Homo sapiens: one gene and its partner. The protein of the gene in region 2 interacts with the protein of the main gene of each other region in a pairwise test. Each region holds a gene or a part of one and is shown on either strand. Other genes may lie near its edges.

Region 1 (3,822 bases), on a different chromosome or scaffold from region 2:
CTTACATTTTGATATAAATGTGCATATTTATTATGAAAATTAAAACAGCAGCCATCAATCATCAATATTTACTAAGTGCCAAGCCCTACACTACAAGTTGTTACATGTTATCATGGTTACCTCATTATCACTGATACCATCACCAGGCCCATCCTGGAAGGGTCTCAGGCCCAAGGCCATCACCAACTGTGGGGCTGGCCCAAGATAAACCACACTTTAAAGAAGGCTTCACTAAACATTTTCATAGGCCCCTTGAGAATGTTAAAAACAAATTTGGAAATTGAGCCCAGTGGGATTGTGGGTCTGTACTACCCTACTTTTCAGCCTTCTTATATAGATTATTCCGATGGTAAGATTAAAAATTAAGGGCAAAAGGCTAATTTCCTTTCCAGTCACGGTGTAAAACAAAGACCAAAATAAGAACTATGTTAGGTTAGTTTGAAATTTCTCACTGAACCAAGTTAAAACAACAGGTAACATTAGGCACTTACACTAAGCAGAAGTCACTGTGCTAAGCACTTTATATTACATATAACAACACTAGGAACTAGCTAATATTTCCCCATTTCACACATAAGGAAACAGAAGCTGAAGAGAATTAAAGTAACTTGCCCAAGATTATACAGTTATTTGGTGTCAGAGCTGGAAGCAGGTCTAACTTCAGAGGCTGTACTCTTATCCTCTATGGTTATGATGAAAATAAATGAAATTTTTATTAAAATCACATATACTTTATCTAAAATGAATACGCATTCGTGAAGAAAATGATCTTAAAAATATGAAACAGTTAAATAAAACAAATGTTTACCGTCTGGTAATAGTCCCCTAATCCACTAAATGTCTGCCATAATCCACTGCTGAATAGCTCCACAAGTAAATAAATCATTTAATGTCCTGATGTATCTATGAAATTATATTTTAAGTGAACCTTTTGAAACAATACTATACATTCTGCAAATGAAATATGCTGCCCTCTTGGAGCTGTGAAAATACATATTTCTTGATCTATTAACTGTCCTAATTCTGTTCAGTTTCCTCCCTTCCTCTCCCACTTCCTCTTTGCTCTCATATCCTTTAAGACCAGTTCAGTTCCTCCTCCTCAAGAATACCTATATTCACACTTTACCCAAGAGAACTCTAACATTAGTTTCTGCGCTCCACAGCTGTAGGATGTTACAAAATCCAAAAAATGAACTCAAGTAAAAAATACAGTATTTCTGATGTACCTTCAACTTTAGATCTATCCACTTACAGAATTAATTATAAACATTCTTATTTTTCTACTTCACACTTGGAATCCTGTCTTTAAAATCAGCACACAGTAACCAAAACAGCATGGCACTGGTACCAAAACAGACATATAAGCCAATGGAGCAGAACAGAGACCTCAGAAATAACACCACACATCTACAACCATCTGATCTTCAACAAACAAGACAAAAACAAGCAATGGGGAAAGGATCTCCTATTCTGTAAATGGTGCTGGGAAAATTGGCTAGCCATATGCAGAAAACTGAAACTGGACCACTTCCTTACACCTTATACAAAAATTAACTTGAGATGAATTAAAGACTTAAATATAAAATCCAAAACCATAAAACCCTAGAAGAAAACCTAGGCAATACCATTCAGGACATAGGCATGGGCAAAGACTTCATGACAAAAATGCCAAAAGCAATTGCAACAAAAGCCAAAATTGACAAATAGGATCTAATTAAACTAAAGAGCTTCTGCACAGCAAAAGAAACTATCATCAGGCTGGGTGCAGTGGCTCATGCCTATAATCCCAGCACTATAGGAGGCCGAGGTGGGAGGATCACCTGAGGTCAGGAATTCCAGACCAGCCTGGCCTGCATGGTGAAACCCTGTCTCTATTTTTAAAAAATTACAAAAAGGCCAGGCATAGTGGCTCACATCTGTAATCCCAGCACTTTGGGAGGCCGAGGCGGGTGGATCACCTGAGGTCAGGAATTTGAGACCAGCCTGGACATGGTGAAACCCCATCTCTACTAAAAATACAAAAATTAGCTGGGCATGGTGGCAGGCGCCTGTAATCCCAGCTACTCAGGAGGCTGAGGCAGGAGAATCACACTTGAACCCCGGAGGCTGAGGTTGCAGTGAGCCAAGATCGCACCATTGCACTCCAGCCTGGGGGACAAGAGCGAGACTCCATCTCAAAAAAAAAAAAAATAGCTGGACGTGGTGGCACATGCCTATAATCCCAGCTACTTGGGAGGTGAACCTGGTAGGCAGAGATTGTGGTGAGCCAAGATGGCACCACGGCACTCCAGCCTGGGAGACAGAGCAAGACCCTGTCTCAAAAAAAAAAAAAAAAAGAAAGAAAAAAAGAAACTATCATCAGAGTGAACAGGCAACCCACAGAACGGGAGAAAATTTTTGCAATCTATCCATCTGACAAAGGTCTAATATCCAGAATTTACAAGGAACTTAAACATATCTACAAGAAAAAAAAAACCCCACCAAAAAGTGGGCAAAGGATATGAATAGACACTTCTCAAAAGAAGACATTTTTGAGGCCAACAAACATGAAAAAAGGCTCAACATCACTGATCATCAGAGAACTGCAAATCAAAACCACAATGATGGCCGGGTGCAGTGGCTCAAGCCTGTAATCCCAGCACTTTGGGAGGCCAAGGCGGGTGGCTCATCTGAGGTTGGGAGTTCTAGACCAGCCTGGCCAACATGTCTCTACTAAAAAGACAAAAATTGGCAGGGCGTGGTGGCAGGCGTCTGTAATCCCAGCTACTCAGGAGGCTGAGGCAGAAGAATCACTTGAACCCAGGAGGCGGAGGTTGCAGTGAGTTGGGATCGCGCCATTGCACTCCAGACTGGGCAACAAGAGTGAGACTCCGTCTCAAAAAAAAAAAAACACAATGAGATACCATTTCATGCCAGTCAGAATGGTGATTATTAAAAAGTCAGGAAAACAATAGATGCTGGCAAGTCTGTGGCGAAATGGAACGCTTTTACACTGTTGCTGGGAATGTAAATTGGTTCAACCATAGTGGAAGATAGTATGGCAATTCCTCAAGGATCTAGAACCAGAAATATCATTTGACCCAGCAATCTCATTAATGGGTATATACCCAAAGGAATAGAAATCATTCTACTCTAAAGACACATGCACACGTATGTTTACTACAGCACTATTTACAATAGCAAAGACACCAAACCAACCCAAATGCCCGTCAATGATAGACTGGATAAAGAAAATGTGATATACATACACCATGGAATACTATGCAGCCATAAAAAGGAATGAGATCATGTCCTTTGCAGGGACATGGACGAAACTGGAAGCCATCATCCTCAGCAAACTAACACAGGAACAGAAAATCAAACACCCTATGTTCTCACTCATAAGTGGGAGTTGAACATTGAGAACACATGGACACAGAGGGGAACAACACACACCAGGACCTGTTGTGGGGGGGCAATGAGGGAAGGGGACTTAGAGGACGGGTGAATAGGTGCAGCAAACCACCACGGTGCACGTATACCTATGTAACAAACCTGTACGTTCTGCACATATATCCTGTTTTTTTTGTAAGAAATAAAAAAAAATCGGCACACAAGAAAGTCTGCCTTTCTTCAAAAACAGTTTTTTCACAAATTTTTTCCATAAATAAAAAAGGTACTAAAAAAACTTGAATCCAAAAAAAGAAAAAGAAAATGCACCGTTAGATGGTAATAAATATATCACATTTTTGGTAATGTAACTCGTTTATTCTGAATCATTTCTGGAACTTGTTAATATAAATGTTTTACAAGTAAATACAATATGTAAAAATGCTACTTAAT
Region 2 (3,822 bases):
TATATATATATATATATATATATATATAATGTATTTATATTCAATATATACTTCTGATTATCTAAACACTGGCAACACAACTCATGTTGGAAACAGTAAAACTGACAGGGACTTAAATTTTAAAAATCTAAATAGCCAATCCTAATTACTATATACAGTAAGTCCTTGAATAATGTGATGAGGGGAAAAAAAATTATTCCCAGCTGGGGCTAACTGTGTAGGAGTCTGCAAGTTCTCCCCATGTCTGTATGGGTTTTCTCCCAGTACTCTGGTTTCCTTCCACATCCCAAAGCTGTGCACGGTAGGTGAACTGGCATGCCTAAGTCCCAGTCTGGGTGAGTGTGGGTGTGTGAGTATGCCCTGTGATGGGAGGGGATCTTGTCCAGGGTTAGTTCCTGCCTTGCATCCTGGGCAGCCGGGATCAGCTCTGGCCACCCACCACCCTGAACTGGAATAAGGAGGCTGGAAAGGAATGAATATATTGTATATTACAATGAAATTATTGTAAAATAAAAGTCTGTAAAGCATATGATAATCATACAAATGCATGAAAATAAACAGCATAGTCCAAAAGTGGTGAGTTTACCATCTTTATTATTGTGTTGGAACTGAATGGAGGTAGGAGGTGCTTCTGACAATGTTCAAGTTGTAAACATTTATTCCTTGACTTAACTCACCACCACTAAAATTGCCATCACTCACTGATTCACCAAAAACTGGGTAATTACCTCGCTTTTATTCATCTTTCTTAAATGTATGTATACCTCAAATTTATCTCAATGTTTGATATCAGAAATGTTTTGGGTCTTTTTAGTTATGTTTCTGTAACCAGAATGTGCCACAGAAACCTAACTCTTCTTTATATTAACTAGTCTATGGTAAAACTTTTGTTATATGTCATTTCAACTGAAGTCATAGTTTCCAAGAACCCATTAACGACGTTAAATGCAGACTTACTGTATTCTGAAACAGGACATATTACTGGAATACCTCAAATGCCATACACATACAAATATTAATTTAAAATCCAGGAATACCTGGAAATTTTATTGGTTAAAAAAAAGGAACACAAGCCAGCTGCAGTGGCTCACACCTGCAATCCTAGCACTTTGGGAGGCCGAGGCAGGCAGATCACTTGAAGCCAGGAGTTTGAGACCTGCCTGGCCAAAATGGCGAAACGCCGTCTCTACTAAAAATACAAAAATTAGCCAAGCATGGAGGCACACGCCTGTAGTTCCAGCTACTCGGGAGACTGAGGCACGAGCATCGCTTGAACCTGGGAAGCGGAGGTTTGCAGTGAGCTGAGATCGCGCCACTGCACTCCGGCCTAGACAACAGATCAAGACTCTGTCTCCAAAAAAACAAAAACAAAAACCAACCCTACACGCTGTAGTCTTTTGTCACTTCTGCCTCAATATTAATAGTTTAATTCTGATTATGACAGTCTATAAATATTTTTTTTTACCTAAGAGTTCAATTCACTGTGTTAAAGATAAACCCCCAAAGAAATAATTTTTAATAAAAGAATTTATAACAAAAATTATGTCCCTGATAACATATAGCTTTATGTTTCAGTTATACCACGACCACACATTCATTTCCATGCCTTTAATTTTATTACGTATACCTTTGCAGGTATGATTCACTATTTATTGCCTACACAAACTTCTAGTAAAATTTCAATCAATCTTCCACAGCAGCCAGTTAGTAAACATCTCTCTTCTGCTTAGAAGCCTTCAGTTATTTCCCAATGTAATAAAATCTAAACTTTCAACAAGGCTTATAAAAACTTTTTTTTTTTTTTTTTTGAGACAGATCTCGCTCTGTCGCCCATGCTGGAGTGCAGTGGCGCGATCTCGGCTCACTGCAAGCTCCGCCTCCCGGGTTCACGCCATTCTCCCGTCTCAGCCTCTCGAGTAGCTGGGGCTACAGGCGCCTGCCACCACACCACGCCCAGCTAATTTTTTTTTTTTTTTGTATTTTTAGTAGAGATGGGGTTTCACCATGTTAGCCAGGATGGTCTCGATCTCCTGACCTCGTGATCCACCATCTCTGCCTTCCAAAGTATTGGGATTACTGGCGTGAGCCACCACGCCCGGCCTATAAAAACTATTTAAAACCAAGTTCTTGCCTACCTATCTACACTACCCCACCCAACAAAAACATACACACTACAATACTATTTAAAATTTGCCAAATTCACCGATTTTTCTCCAGCTCTTCCTTCAGGCTGGTAAGGTGTCTTCTCTCTCCTCTCCCTCAGGCTAATTCCTGCCAATCCTTTAGGTAAATGTATTTAAAGACCACTTTGTCTGACAGGCCTTTCCTGAGTATCCATCCCAATCTGGGTTATGCACTCCTTTCCTGTGTACACTATACAGCTGACCTTTGAACTCGGGGGGCTGGGGCACTGCTATGGTTTGGATGTGGTTTCTTTGGTCCCAAAAAAAACATTCTTGTGGGAGTGAATTCCCATTCTTAGTTGACTGGAAAATTGGTTGTTGAACAGAGCCTGGCACTCTAGCCATGTGATCTTTGCGCATGCTAGCTCCCCTTCTGCCATGAGTGGAAGCAGTCTGGGACCCTCACCAGATAGGTACCAGCTACAATGCTTCTTGTACAGTCTGGGGAACTGAACTAAATAAACCTCTTTTCTTTATAATTATCCAACCTCAGGTATTCCTTTATAACAACTAAGAGAGTTACTGACCCTAACTCCCCTAAAACCTAACTATCAAAAGCCTACCACTGACTGGAAGCCTTACAATAACACTAACAGTTGGTTAACACGTATTTTGTATATTATTTGTATTATATACTGTATTCTTTTTTTTTTGAGACAAAGTCTCGCTCTGTCAGCCAGGCTGGAGTGCGGTGGCATGATCTCGGCTCACTGCAACCTCCGCCTCCCGGGTTCAAGAAATTCTCCTGCCTCAGCCTCCTGAGTAGCTGGGATTACAAGCACCGGCCACAACGCCTGGCTAATTTTTGTATTTTTAGTAGAGACAGGGTTTCACCATGTTAGCCAGGCTGGTCTCCAACTCCTGACCTCAAGTGACCGCCCACCTCGGCCTCCCAAAGTGCTGGGATTAAAGACGTAAGCCACCGTGCCTGGCTATATACTGTATTCTTACAATAAAGTAAGCTAGAGATGTGCACTGTAGAATGTTTAGGGAAAAAAATAACTATAAGTAAGCTAGAGAAAAAAATGTGAAAACACATTTACAGTGCTGTATTTATCAATACCCTAAGTTTAGGTCATCTGTATACAAAAGATGAATTGTCTCAAATGCCAGCAACCCCAGGTGCAGATCTCAGTCTATCGTACATATCAAGCAATTTAACTTCTTGTACTGTCATGACTTTTCTGCTTCTTCGGAGCACTTCCAATGTCACTAGCTGCACTTCGTATGGGTCTCAGGGCGTTATTCAAAGGTCATGGTATTGTACATAGGCCAGGCGCTGTGGCTTACACCTCTAATCCCAGCACTTTGGGAGGCCAAGGTGGGCGGATCACTTAAGGCCAGGAGTTCGAGCCCAGCCTGGCCAACATGACAAAACCCCATCTCTACTAAAAATACAAAACTTAGCCAGACATGGTGGTACACGGCTGTAATCCCAGCTACCTGGGAGGCTGAGGTATGAGAACTGCTTGAACCTGGGAAGCAGAGGTTGCAGTGAGCCGAGATGGCACCACTGCACTCCAGCCTGGGCGACAGAGCAAGACTGTCTCAAAAACAACAACAACAAAAAGCAAAACAACAAGTTTATACGGTATTGCAATAAACAATGATGAAAATACACAAGAACCAAGGGATAATT

Evidence for each region.
Region 1: the proteins of LUC7L3 (region 2) and ITSN2 interact in a two-hybrid assay, tested with the Homo sapiens proteins (one large-scale study listed by BioGRID).

The regions. Positions count from the first base shown.
Region 1 is NC_000002.12:24,354,027-24,357,848, forward strand, and holds part of ITSN2 (intersectin-2), read right to left. Parts: intron 1-3,822.
Region 2 is NC_000017.11:50,726,103-50,729,924, reverse strand, and holds part of LUC7L3 (luc7-like protein 3), read right to left. Parts: intron 1-3,822. UniProt on the Homo sapiens protein: Binds cAMP regulatory element DNA sequence. May play a role in RNA splicing.